2 linked regions of the Homo sapiens genome follow. The protein of the gene in region 1 interacts with the protein of each later gene in a biochemical or structural test. Each region holds a gene or a part of one and is shown in the gene's direction. Other genes may lie near its edges.

Region 1 (7,119 bases):
CTCCTGGGTTCAAGTGATTCTCCTGCCTCAGCCTCCTGAATAGCTGGGATTATAGGTGCCCGCCACCACACCAGCTAATTTTTGTATTTTTAGTAGACATGGGGTTTCACCATGTTGGCCAGGCTGGTCTTGAACTCCTGACCTCAGGTGATCTGCCTGCCTCAGCCTCCCAAAGTGTTGGGATTACAGGCATGAGCCACCGTGCCTGGCCCTGACATGTCCTTTTAGTCATTCAGCAAACTTTTTTTTTTTTTTTTTTTTTTTGAGACAGTCTCACTCTGTCACCTAGGCTGGAGTGCAGTGGCGTGATCTCAGCTCACTGCAGCCTCCACTTCCTGGGTTCAAGTGATCGTCCTGCCTCAGCCTCCCTAGTAGCTGGGACTACAGGCACATGCCACCACACCCAGTTAGTTTTGTATTTTTAGTAGAGACGGGGTTTCACCACGTTGGCCAGGCTGGTCTTGAACTCCTGACCTCAGGTGATCCGCCTGCCTTGGCCTCCCAAAGTGCTGGGATTACAGGCATGAGCCACTGCACCCAGCCTCAACAAACATTTTTGAGGCCTGGCATTGGCAAGAGGCAGAGAGGAATCAGGAGAGCTTCTGGTCCTATAACAATTGGAGCTGCTATTTGTCATCCTTATCATAAGCCAAGCACTAGTGTAAGTGCTGCATGTGGTTGGCTTCATCCATTACATTTAATATTATTCAGTGTCCTCGTCACCTTACTGGTCCATCACTCTGCCCTCATCTCTACCCCTTTCCTGTCAGTCACTCTGCACCAGCCTTCTTGCTATTCCTTAAGCATGCCATGCATGTTCCTACCACAGGGCCTTTGCACGTGCTAGCCCCTGTGCTTTGAACACTCTCCCCCAGATATCCACATGAATCCCTCACCTCCTTTGACTCCCTGTTCAAATGGCACCTCTCAGACCCTGATCTTCCTAACCCAAACTATCTTCCGAACTCCTTCTCGTTATCCTGCTCTATCCTGTAATACTGCCATCACCATCAGACATAATATTTGCTTATCTGTTTTCCATCTGTCTCCTCACTTGGATTTCCTTGATGGCAAGGGCTTTTTGTCTGCTGTGTGCCTTGCTATGTCCCTAGCTTTTAGAGCAGTGCCTGACACTGTTACGCTGTGTGTAATAACTGTAAATTGAAGAGCCAGGCACAGTGGCTCACGCCTGTAATCCCAGCGCTTTGGGAGGTTCGGGCAGAAGGATCACTTGAGGCTAGGAGGTCAAGATCAGCCTGGGCAACAGCAAAATCCCATGTCTTAAATAAAAGAAAGAAGACCGGGTGTGGTGGCTCACGCCTGTAATCCCAGCACTTTGGGAGGCCAAGGCAGGCGGATCACGAGGTCAGGAGATTGAGACCATCCTGGCTAACACGGTGAAACCCTGTCTCTACTAAAACTACAAAAAATTAGCCAGGCATGGTGGCGGGCGCCTGTAGTCCCAGCTACTCGGGAGGCTGAGGAGCAGAATGGCGTGAACCCGGGAGTAGGAGCTTGCAGTGAGCCGAGATCGCGCCACTGCACTCCAGCCTGGGTGGCAGAGGAAGACTCCATCTCAACAAAAAAAAAAAAAGAAAGAAATAGGGCTGGGCACAGTGGCTCACGACTGTAATCCCAGCACTTTGGGAGGCCAAGACAGGCGGATCACCTGAGGTCAGGAGTTCAAGACCAGCCTGGACAACATGGTGAAACCCCATCTCTACTAAAAAAAAAAAAAAAAAAAGAAAGAAAGAAATGTAGTCCCAGCACTTTGGGAGGCTGAGGTAGGCAGCTCGCTTGAATCCAGGAGTTTGAGACCAGCTTGGGCAACATGGTGAAACCTCATCTCTGCTAAAAACACAAAAATTAGGCCAGGCATGGTGGCGCACACCTGTGGTCCCAGCTCACCAGCTGTGTGGCCTCAGGCAACTGACTTCATCTCTCTGAGCTTCAGTTTCCCGTCTGTAAAGTGGGTCTAATAATAGGACGGTCATGAGTATTAAATAAAATGATGTTAATAGTTAGTTGCCCTTTGGCCAGGTGCACTGGCTCAGCCTAAGCAACAGATCCTCTCTCTACAAAAATAGAAAACAGGCTGGGCGCAGTGGCTCATGCCTGTAGTCCCAGCTACTTGGGAAGCTGAGGCAGGAGAATCGCTTGAACCCGGGAGGCAGAGATTGCAGTGAGCTGAGATCGCACCACTGCACTGCAGCCTGGGTGACAGAGCGAGACTCCATCTCTCAAAAAAAAAAAGAAAGAAAAGAAAAGAAAACATTAGCCGGATGCGGTGGTGTGTGCCTGTAGTCCCAGCTACTCTGGAGGCTGAGGTGAGAGGATCCCCTTAGTCCAGGAGGTTGAGGCTGTGGTGAACCATGTTCCTGCCACTGCACTCCAACCTCGGTGACAGAGTGACACCCTGCCTCAAAAAAAAAAAAAAAGTTCACATTTGTATATAGCACCCACATGTGCCAGGCCCTGTTCTAAGAATTTTGTGTTTTAAATATTTGTGTCTATTAATTTGTGTGACCTTGGAGAAATTAATTTTGCCGGGTTTCAGTTTTCTCATCTGCTATGTGGGGATCAATAACACCATATACTTCACACAATTGTTGTGAACATTCAACTTACAGAGTTATTTCTTTTTCTTTTTGAGACAAGGTCTCACTCTGTCACCCAGGCTGGAGTGCAATAGCGTCATCACAGCTCACTGCAGCCTCAACCTCCCAGGCTCAAGCAATCCTCCTGCCTCGGCCTCCCAAAGTATTGGGGTTACAGGTGTGAGCCACCGTGCCTAGCCAGAACACCCAAATTTTATACAAGCAAAGGAAAGACAACAAACCCTGCATCTGTGGTCTGAGAGCGCCTGGCATCCAACTTAGAACCTAATAGATCACCTAGTCGTTCTCAGGAATATGAGAGGCTTAGGAATGTGATCTAGCCAAATGGCTGCCCCTCTTTCAGCCTGAGTCCCTTCTGCAATAATCCTATCATATGCTTCTGGCGCTGGTGATAGGGATGAGCTCAGGGTTTAGGCACACAGCTCAGGATGTATACGGAGGCTACACTGCTGCCATTCGCAGACTGAATAACTGAGCTTTTGAGCTCAAAGTGGTCTGGGCTATTTATGGGTAACTTTCAGGGGCTGCAGGGAGGAACAAACCAATAAATAAAACATCCATGCATTCATCCAATAAACTTTTTTTTTTTTGAGATGGGAGTCTCGCTCTGTTGCCCAGGCTGGAGTGCAGTGGCACGATCTCAGCTCACTGCAACCTCCGCCTCCCAGGTTCAAGCTATTCTCCTGCCTCAGCCTCCGGAGTAGCTGGCATTACAGGCGCACACCAACACGCCCAGCTAATTTTTGTATTTTTAGTAGAGATGGGATTTCACCATGTCGGTCAGGCTGGTCTCGAAATCCTGACCTCGTGATGTGCCTGCCTCGGCCTCCCAAAGTGCTGAGATTACAGGCATGAACCACCGCGCCCGGCCTCCAATAAACATTTATTGGGCACCTACGGTGTTCCAGGCGCTGGTCTAGGCGTTGGGGTTACAACAACGCACAAAACATAAATTCTGAAGCTGACACGCTAGCTTTAAACGTTCCTTAAATATCTTCATCCTCAATTTACGGTTGAGGAAACTGAGGTGTAGCGAGACCTTGGAGGTTTCCGAAATATTATTATGGATGGCAGGTGTAGAGCCCTGCCAACCTCTCGATCCTGAAGCTCCCCTTCCAGCCTGAGAAACGGCAGGTTCAAGTCCCACTGGGAGACCAAAGCGGGGAGCGGCTCAGTTTGCCGGCTTGCTCAATGGGTAAGGCGTGATGGCTCTAAGCAGGCCTCAGTTGTCTCGTCCAGAGCAATGGGCAGCGACGCCTGCCCAACCCCTCCTGAGCGCCCAGCCTCCCTTTCCCGGCCGGCCCCGCCCCCGCGATCACGTGACGCGTGGGGGTTTTCCCGTTCCCCAGGCGTGACGTCACGGCGGGGTGCAGACCAATGGGCGCGCAGGCCGGCGGCGCCGGGGAATTCCGCCGCCCCGCCCCCGCCCGCCGCCCGCCCGGCCCGGCCCCGCGCCCCGCGCAGCCCCGGGCGCCGCGCGTCCTGCCCGGCCTGCGGCCCCAGCCCTTGCGCCGCTCGTCCGACCCGCGATCGTCCACCAGACCGTGCCTCCCGGCCGCCCGGCCGGCCCGCGTGCATGCTTCGGTCTGGGCCAGCCTCTGGGCCGTCCGTCCCCACTGGCCGGGCCATGCCGAGTCGCCGCGTCGCCAGACCGCCGGCTGCGCCGGAGCTGGGGGCCTTAGGTAAGCGGGGCTGGGGTTCAGGAGAGGGGTCTGGGGCGGGGCTGGAGATGCGGGGATTCTGGCGGTCCCGGAGTAGTCTGGGGGTTCCTATGGGAGTCTAAGGGTTTCGCGGGGGCAGAGTGAGGGTTCCTGAGACACTGTATTAGGGCGTAGGAAGAAGGCAGAGGGTGATGAGGGGGTACGGCCCGAGGTTCGAGCGAGGCGTCCCGCTGTAGAGTGAGAGGGGGCGGGGCCTGACCCTGAGGCAAAGAAGGGGGCGTGGCCTGACTCAGAGAAGGCGGAGCGAAAGCTGCTCTTGGGCGGTATCGGGGCGGGGCCGGGCCCAGAGAGGGAGAAGAGGGGCGGGATCCGACCCGGACTATGAGAAGAGGGCCGGGCCTGACTCAAAAAAGGAAGCAGGGCCCTACGCTGAGGGGTGAGGGGGCGGGGCCTGGCCGTGAGGGCAGGAAGGGGGCGGGGCCTGAGTTGGCCGAAAGAAGGGGAAGGGGCGGGGCCTGACTCTGGCCGAGTGGAGGGGAAGGGCCTGTTACCCAAAAAAGCAGGGCGGGGCCCGACACAGAGAATGAGGAGGGGGTGGGGCTTGCCTCCAGACGGAGAAGCGGAGCCTTGACATTGAAAAAATTAAAAGTGGTCTGACCCTGACAGGAGGATGTTTTTTTTTGTTTGTTTTTTGTTTTTTTCTTTTGAGATGGAGTCTCGCTCTGTCGCCCAGGCTGGAGTGCAGTGGCACGATCTAGGCTCACTGCAACCTCTGCCTCCCGGGCTCAAGCAGTTCTCCTGCCTCAGCCCCCCGAGTAGCTGGAATTACAGGTGCCCGCCACCACACCCGGCTAATTTTTGTAGTTTTACTAGAGACGGGGTTTCACCATGCTGGTCAGACTGGCCTCGAACTTCTGACCTCAGGTGATCCGCACGCCTCGGCCTCTCAAAGTGCTGGGATTACAGGTGTGAGCCCTTGTGCCCAGCGGGATGGGGACTTTTTAAACTGAGATTGAGATGGGGTCCCCTCCAGGCCCAACTTTAAGGGAGAAAAGGAGCGGGCCCTGAGTGTGATGAAGGGTGGGGCGAACCACAGAAACTAAAGGCCAGGACCTGTCCATGATTTAGCTGGTAAGCCTGGCCAGACGCAGGGGGGCAGTCAGGGCGAGGGGCCTGATCCAGAGGGGAAGGGCTAGAAGAGGAAGGGGTGGGGCTTCCTTGGGATATTCTCTGGTCCTCTGGCTGCCCCCCATCACCTCCTGAGACGTTTCTCCTTCTCTGCAGGGTCCCCCGACCTCTCCTCACTCTCGCTCGCCGTTTCCAGGAGCACAGGTGAGCAGCCCTCCACAGTTCCTGCCCACTCGCTCATGCAGGATGAGGTTGGGAGGACTCCACAGAGATGTCTCTGTTTGGGGGTTCACGAGGTCCACCTCAGCTTTCTCCTGACAGGGTGCATCCCTCCCTGCCAGTTGAGATGGGCCCCCTAGGTTTTCTTACCTCTTGGACTGTTAAGAGCGTGACAGGTGGCCGGGCGCGGTGGCTCACGCCTGTAGTCCCAGCACTTTGGGAGGCCGAGGCGGACGGATCACGAGGTCAGGAGATCGAGACCATCCTGGCTAACACGGTGAAACCCCGTCTCTACTGAAAATACAAAAACAAAATTAGCCGGGCGTGGTGGCGGGCTCCTGTAGTCCCAGCTACTCGGGAGGCTGAGGCAGGAGAATGGCGTGAACCTGGGAGGCGGAGCTTGCAGTGAGCCGAGATCGCACCACTGCACTCCAGCCTGGGAGACAGAGCGAGACTCCGACTCAAAAAAAAAAAAAAAAAAAAAAAAAGCGTGACAGGTAAATCTTACCACCTATCCATGCGCAAAGGCTTCTTTAGAGATTCACTGTGGCTTAGTAGAAGGTAATCACTGCCATCCTGGGCTTTGGAGCTGGGGTTTACATACTGCTGTCATCGCCCCTCCCTGTGTGAATGTCTGCAAGTCAGTTCCCCAGTTCAGGCCTCAGTTTTCCTCATCTGTAAGATGGACAGAATAACAGTGCCTCTCTTTCAGGGAAATTGAGAGTATTCAATGAATTGATACAGGTACACTTTCCAAGCAGTATCTGGCACACAGTAAGGGTTCAGTAAGTGTTAACTGTTAGTGGTATAATAATAATAACGATAATAATTATTATTACTAGACAGTCTATAACAGTGGTTCATTTTTGGTGTGTGTGTGGGTTTTTTTTGTCTGTTTTTTGTGTTTTTTTTTTTTTTTTTTTTTTTTTTGAGACAGAGTCTCGCTGTGTCACCCAGGCTGGAGTACATTGATGCGATTTTGACTCACTGCAATCTCCACCTCCCGGGTTCAGCAATTCTCCTGCCTCAGCCTCCTGAGTAGCTGGGATTACAGGCACCCGCCACCACAACCCACTTTGTGTCTTTAGTAGAGATGGGGTTTCACCATGTTGGCCAGGCTGGTCTTGAACTCCTGACCTCAGGTAATCCGCCCGCCTCAGCCTCCCAAAGTGCTGGGATTACAGGTGTGAGCCACCTCGCCTGGCCAGACAGTGGTTCTTTTTTTTTTGAGACGGAGTTTCATTCCTGTTGCCCAGGCTGGAGTACAATGGCGCGATCTCGGCTCACTGCAACCTCCACCTCTCAGGTTCGAGCAATTCTCCTGCCTCAGCCTCCCAAGTAGCTGGGATTACAGTCATGTGCCACCACGCTCAGCTAATTTTTTGTATTTTTAGTAGAGACAGGGTTTCTCCATGTTGGTCAGGCTGGTCTCGAACTCCTGACCTCAAAGGATCCGCCCTCCTCGGCCTCCCAAAGTGCTGGGATTACAGGCG
Region 2 (7,276 bases), on another chromosome or scaffold:
AGAAGGGGACAGTTGCCTAACAAGAGGTGGCAAGCACAAAGGGCATGCAGTTGTGGAATCTGAGAATTTGGGGTGGGAAGTCTGATGAGAGGCAGATGAGTTTCACCTGTCTTTCAAGATGGTAAAGATTAGTTTTGAGGAGGTTGGCTGGGGTGAGAAGGGTTGGAGAATTTGGGAACGTTAAGCTCATCCCTATGGAGATCAGAAGAATTAAACGGACTTTTTTTCAAAAAACAGCACTGGGAGCTTGGGGGCTGGACAGTGAAGCAAGGTCAGCTGGGGATGCTTACTCTATTTAAGACAAAAAAGTTATTGTAAAGTGATTTCATGCTGTTGGGAGAAGATCTGTGATACTAGAAGGTCCTAAAGGTATTTTTTCTCTGGTGCCAAAGACAGGAATTATAGTGTGAGTGTCTAGTCCGTGTGGGTGACAAGTCCCACGAGGCTGTGAAGTGCTTTCTTCAGTCACTGGATCTGCAGCCCTAGAATCTCGAAATGTTGCCCATTCTGTTTCTTTTTCTTCTCTTCACTTTTTTTTCTGACACTTTACATCTTTCCTCAAACTGGGTGAAAATTTAATAATACAAATAAGTAAACCACAAGAAAAGAGCCCGTTCAAACTGTCTACAAGAGATTAGAAATAATTGTAAATGTTTTCATTGCTGATGACTCAGAGTAAATCCTTGTTGATAGCTTAGTTCCCCACAACCATGTACATTTGGGAATGTGCTATAGTCAGACCCGGCCCTGATTCCATTCAAGACTGACCTGGACACCCTTTGCTGTTAGTGTAGATAGACACAGACTCTGAGGGTCTTGCCCAAGCTATGTAAATTCTTTGGTGGCATGGAACATCTGAGCCCTAAGGATGGCAGACCTTCCAGGAGGTTCTAAATGCTGCCTAAAATTCTGTTAAGTAGGGAGCTTAGAAATGGGGCTGTGGAACCTGGACCATGGAAAAACAGTCATTGCATACCTGCTGAGTAGAAGGTGCACTTTTAGCTGCAGAAATCCTGCTTTCATGCAGTTTATTATAGGAATGAGAACGTGTAAAAGGCTCTAACAGAAGGTTTCCTCCCAGCCTGGGAAACATACTGAGACCCTGTTTCTACAAAAAAACAAAAAATTAGCCAGGCATAGTGGCACAGGCCTGTAGTCCCAGCTACTCTGCAGGCTGAGGTGGGATTGCTTGAGCCCAGGAGTTCGAGGCTGCAGTGAGCCTCAACAATTATTATTGAAATTCATTCAGTAATCATTCATTTATGAATAATTAATATGGACAAGACAGAATTTTATTGATTTAGGTATTGTCAACCTCCAGCATGGTCGACAGAGAAGACCTTGTCTCTAAAACAAATAAACTAAAAAAGGTTTCCTTCTCGCCCTCTTGGTCTTATCCTTCAGTCCCATGACTTTACATTTATTTGGGTTGATTACTCCTAATTTCTATTTCCAGCCCATTTCTCTGCTTTGAACTCCTAGATTCACGTATGTAAACACTTGTTTGCCATCTTCTCTTGAATGACTAAGACACGTCTTAAATATAACATGTCCAAAATTTAACACGTCTTCCCTTATAAACCTCTTTCTTTCAGTTTCTGCACCCTCTGGTTGTTCAGTCCAAAAACTTCGAATTCATTCCTGACTCCACTTTTACACACAAATCGTTTTTGTCAGCCCATCCTTCCTGCTGTACCTTCACTATATATATGTAGAATCCAATGTCCACTGCTGGCACGCTGGGCCAAGCCACGTTGTCTCTCAACTAGATTATTCCAGTAGCCACTTAACTTCTCCCTGTTTTGCTTTGCTCCCACCCCAGTCTGTTACCAATATAGCAGTAAGAATTATTCTTTTAAAACATCACATCAGGTCTTATTCCTCCTCTGCTCAAAACTCTCCTATTGTGGCCAGGCGTGGTAGCCTCACACCTGTAATCCCAGCACTTTGGGAGGCCAGGGTGGGAGGATTACTTATGCCTAGGACTTCAAAACCAGCCTGAGCAACATAGATAGACCCCATTAAAAAAAAATGCCAACTCTCCTATTGTTTTTCCATCTCAGAGTAAAAACACCATTAGCTACCAGTTCACTCTTCAACCTGATATCTTCTTGTCTCCATCCCTCTCTACTCTGGTCACATGTGCTTTCTTGCCTTCCTTTGGACACAGTAGTCTTTGTACTTGCTGCCTACTCAGGCTGAGATGGTCTCCACAGGTAACCACATGACTTGTTCACCTCACTGAGCTCTTCTCTGATCATAATATTTAAAATTACCCTCTACATCTGCTCAGTGTTACCTGTCTACTTGCGTTACCTCCACAACACTTAAGACCATTGGTTAGTTGGATACATACACAAAAAGATATCTCTGTGTTTATTTAAATTTATGTCTGTACTTCTCTAGAATGAAAGATCCAGGAAGATACAGAATTTTGTTTTGTTTGCTGCTGTATCCTCAACACCTAGAAAAAACAGTGGCCTATTTTAGGTGATGGAGAAATAGATCAAATTAATGAATAAAGATTCCAAATAGTAAATGTACCAAGAGGAGAAGCAGAAGAACCTAAAAACAGCATTATGGTTTGTCCCCTAAAGGGTGTATAATACATTCTATTTGATTATATATTTTTTTAAAGATAAAAATAGAGATATTTTTAAAAAGTAAAGTACATTTGTTTCAGTCATAAAGCAGTTTTTAAATTAAATCAAAAATTCTAAATTAGGACTTTCAGAAACTACTTCAAAGCACACTCTTACAGGAATGTAACTTAAAAAGGAAAGAAAGAAAAGTTAGGTATGTATAAGCATCATCTTAGCTGAAAGCCAGTGCCCATACGGAAAATCAGTAAAAACAAAAAGAGATACAGAGTCTTCTTTTTCTCCTGTGCCTCTTGTAATGGAAGAGAAATCATCTGTACTTCAATTTGATCTTTGTTCTTTTGGGGGGGAAGGAAAGCCAAGTGTTTTTAATTTTCTCTATATCAATATAGACATTAATTAAAGCATCACTTGGTTGCATTTGATGAGATGGCTTCTTAATTTCATTTATCAGATCCTGGTAAACTTCTGAATCATAAAAATTATATTTAGCATACAGCATCCCTATTTTTACAAATCTCATTCTAATTATTTACAAAATTAGTAATCCTTGTATTGTTTCTAATACAGGTTCTTTCACTTGGGTATTTCAGAAACTAGTAAAATAAAATTTCACAAAATAAGAGCACTAACAGGCAGCTTCACCTTTTTATGTTTTCTGTCATCATAGTCACCATTGTTTCTTAAAAGAAAGAACACTTTAACACCTAAAAATGGAAAAGACAATTTTAGAATAAAAGACAGCTTTATTGTCCTTATTTTTATCATTTTACCTTGGACTGCAGATTGTGCTGCCACTGGTCTACAGTCCAGAATTTGAGACTGGTTGACTTGTGATATGATGATTCACATTTAACAAGAATGGCATATTGAATATAATAAAATTGAACTAGGATGCTTAGAAAAGAATACCTAGTAAATATAGTGATCACAGGAGGCCTTAGAGGACATTTTCAGGTTACCAAAATAATAGTTACTCAAAAAAATGTTTAAGGAAAAGCTAAAATTGTTTCAGAAATAAGCATAGTTAAGAAGTTAGCTTTAATATTCTTTTAATATCCCCATATTCTTATTGCATAATAAGAGCTAACCTTTATTGAATGTCTGTTACTTGCCAAGCACTGTGTTAAGCACTTCTTACATGGATTAGCTATTTAATTCTAACAACCCTATGAGGTAGATAATATTACTAATGAAATTAATTTGATCGTATACATTTTTTCCATATGAAATAATCAACATTATCACTGAATTTTAAATCTTGGGTAACAGTATAAATGCTATGACAGCATCTTCATAAGACTACTCAAAATGAATGAGGATTAATATTTCAAGCAATAAAATAGTTTGCTAACCTTGATTCTGTCACACCCTGGCACTATTATGTTTCACCTCTTGCATCTGTTCAGGCTTTCAGCCTTGACAATTATGATTGAAATTCATTCAGTAATCATTCATTAATGCATAATTAATATGGACAAGACAGAATTTTAGGTATTGAGGGATTTTATGTCTGCGTGTGTGTGTGTATACACACACATATATGTTTAATATGATGGGGTTTCTGTTTTCAAGGAGTTTACTATAATCTAGTTGGATAAGGCAGCTTTTCTTCATGCTCATGAAGAAAAGCTCACCGTTCTAAGGTGAAATTATGTGAGATAAAACATGAAACAAGTCTGCACATGACTGCTTAAGGCCCAAATCCAGGCTGCTACCCGTTTCATATAGCCCATGATCTAAGACTGGTTTTTGTATTTTACGAATTGTAAAACAAAAAACAACAAAGAAGAATGTGTGATAGAGACTCTATGGCCCAGAATATCTAAAATATATCCTTGCTGGCCACTTAGAAAAACAGTTGTCTATAAAATAAGTGCAGTTAGGAGACTGTGTCTATAAAGTGTGTTTGGTGGACTGGTGTGGTCTAGGAGGACCTTGTAGAGAAGCTAGAGTTAATATGGGACTGTAATTCAAATTGGCAGGAAAAGGAGCAGGATCTGCAAAGATGGATGAGGTGTGAATTCTACAGTATATCATGCAGATTATCTAAACACTTTGGTTGGCTGTTGTTGGTTATGTTTCTTTGGGAAAGTTTTTCTGTCGTTGATTGCTCGGTTTTTTCTTGATTCTTTTGTCTCCCCTTGAATGTTTAATACTTGTACTTTCCCCTTCTATAAAATGATTACAATTCATATCATTGTTCCATTCTTCATGGCCTTCTATGATCTGATCTTAACCTGTCTTTCTAATCTGGTATACCACTACTGCACACAATAACATGGAAAAGGAAATTGTATATGTATGTTAAATACTGGTATTTTTAAAAGAATAGTTTTAATAAAAGGACAATAAGACATTCTTTAAAGGAAGGGTTAGCAAACTATTTCCATAGAGGGCCCAATGGTAAATATTTTTGGCTTTGCAGCCAGGTATTCAGCTCTGCAGTTGTATCAGGAGAGCTGCCATAGACATTTGTGAATATGTGAATGAATGAGTGTAGCTGTGCTCCAGTGAAACTTTATTTACAGAAATCAGGTAGCTGAACACATTTGGCCCACAGGCCATGGTCCCTGCAATAGGATATTTCTAGGTACTTAGAAGTACTTTGGTTTTTTTCTTTCTTTTTTTTAAGACCGAGTCTCGATCTGTCGCCCAAGCTGGAGTGCAGTGGCATGATCTCAGCTCACTGCAATCTCCGCCTCCTGGGTTCAAGCGATTCTTGTGCCTCCTGAGTAGCTGGGACTACAGGCGTGCACCACCACACACCGGCTAACTTTTGTATTTTTAGTAGAGATGGGGCTTCACCATGTTGGCCAGGCTGGTCTCAAACTCCTGGCTTGATGAGATCCGCGTGCCTTGGCCTCCCACAGTGCTGGGATTACGGGTGTGAGCCACCGTGCCCAGCCTAAGTACTTTGAATGTCAATAGTACTGGTTCTCTTTCTAAATATACTTTTTAAAAATTATCAAAAGAGCCAGGAGTGGTGGCTCCAGCTCTTTGGGAGGCAGAGGCAGGATTATTGCTTGAGCCCAGGAGTTTGAAACCAGCCTGGGCAACATAGCAAGACAGCATCTCTATTAAAAAAAAATTATCAAAAAATAAATGCACATAAAAAAATCAACAGTACAAAAGGGGTTATAGTGAAAAGTAGATCATCCAGCCATGAGCTCTACTGTCTTACCCTCTGTGAGGCAACTATGGCTACGAGTTTCTTAGATACCTTTTCAGAGTTTACTCTCCATGTATAAGAACACACACAAATGATCTTGGTAATAACAAACGCTGTTCTGTATCTTCCTTTTTTCATATGAATACACACATAGACATACTACCTTGTTAATACAAATAGTAGTGTATTATACACAGTTTTTTATGTTAATTCCTTCATTTCTCAGTATGTCTTAAAGACCTATGCCTTTACCTCAGGCTCAGTTTTTTTAATGAATTAACAGTATTTCATTTGATATACATGCCATAATTTATTTAAACTAGTAATTAAGGATATTTTTAGTATTTTTCAATTGCTAACCTTGTAACACTGATTGTTCTATCCGCTTCATTTGGGGTCATTTTGTATTTCATCATCTTTGAAGAAGGAGTAAGGAAATTTTTCTGGCCTTCCTATTCCCCATTCCTAAATTAAAGGCAAAAAAACCTTTGTCAGTATCAAGGCTCAATTTCTCTCACATCCTGTTTCTGGGTTTCTCATTCTCCTGATTTAATAATCATGGGACACTTGGGGAGGCCGAGGCAGGTGGATCATGAGGTCAGGAGATCGAGACCATCCTGGCTAACAAGGTGAAACCCCGTCTCTACTAAAAATACAAAAAATTAGCCGGGCGCGGTGGCGGGCGCCTGTAGTCCCAGCTACTCGGGAGGCTGAGGCAGGAGAATGGCGTGAACCCGGGAAGCGGAGCTTGCAGTGAGCCGAGATTGCGCCACTGCAGTCCGCAGTCCGGCCTGGGCGACAGAGCGAGACTCCGTCTCAAAAAAAAAAAAAAAAAAAAAAAAAATAATCATGGGAGCTGAGTGGGAGAAGGGAATAAAGAGGAATTCCCCGTGATGAAAGAGGAGGAAAGGATACTCGCATTCATTATGTGAATAGTTTGTCACCACCCACCCACTCACTTGTGATTTATTCCATACAGCACCACCGTGGTCCAGATATATAGCAGGTGTATCATGTGGAAGAAAGCTGTTGACTTGAATTCTTTCTGTTGCTTTCAGTTGCCTAGACCTGGAGCAGTGTTCTCTTAAGGTACTGGAGCCTGAAGGAAGCCCCAGCCTGTGTCTGCTGAAGTTAATGGGTGAAAAAGGTTGCACAGTCACAGAATTGAGTGATTTCCTGCAGGCTATGGAACACACTGAAGTTCTTCAGCTTCTCAGCCCCCCAGGTAGGTTTTGTTCTTAGGATTATTCTCCAGGAGTTCATGGAGCCAAACTTAGAAGAAATTATCTCTTTTGACCAGGTGAACTGTGTTAAGTATTTTTGGAAAATGTAAATGTGTAGTGCCTTGTTTGCTTTCCCAGGTTGAAGCAAATGCAATGCATGAATATTGGTTGGATTGTGGTTGAAGAAACCAGCTACATGAGACATTTTTGAGATAGTTGGAAAAATTTGAATGTAACTACATATTTGATATATTAAGTAATTATCATATGATAATGATACT

What was found.
Region 2: of the proteins of RELB (region 1) and MALT1, one has a biochemical effect on the other in vitro, tested with the Homo sapiens proteins (2 studies listed by BioGRID).

What each region holds. Positions count from the first base shown.
Region 1 is NC_000019.10:44,997,386-45,004,504, forward strand, and holds the start of RELB (transcription factor RelB), read left to right. Parts: upstream 1-4,078; 5' UTR 4,079-4,194; coding exon 4,195-4,300; intron 4,301-5,563; coding exon 5,564-5,611; intron 5,612-7,119.
Region 2 is NC_000018.10:58,674,340-58,681,615, forward strand, and holds part of MALT1 (mucosa-associated lymphoid tissue lymphoma translocation protein 1), read left to right. Parts: intron 1-3,270; exon of another isoform or gene 3,271-3,307; intron 3,308-6,132; exon of another isoform or gene 6,133-6,237; intron 6,238-6,830; coding exon 6,831-6,997; intron 6,998-7,276. UniProt on the Homo sapiens protein: Protease that enhances BCL10-induced activation: acts via formation of CBM complexes that channel adaptive and innate immune signaling downstream of CARD domain-containing proteins (CARD9, CARD11 and CARD14) to activate NF-kappa-B and MAP kinase p38 pathways which stimulate expression of genes encoding pro-inflammatory cytokines and chemokines.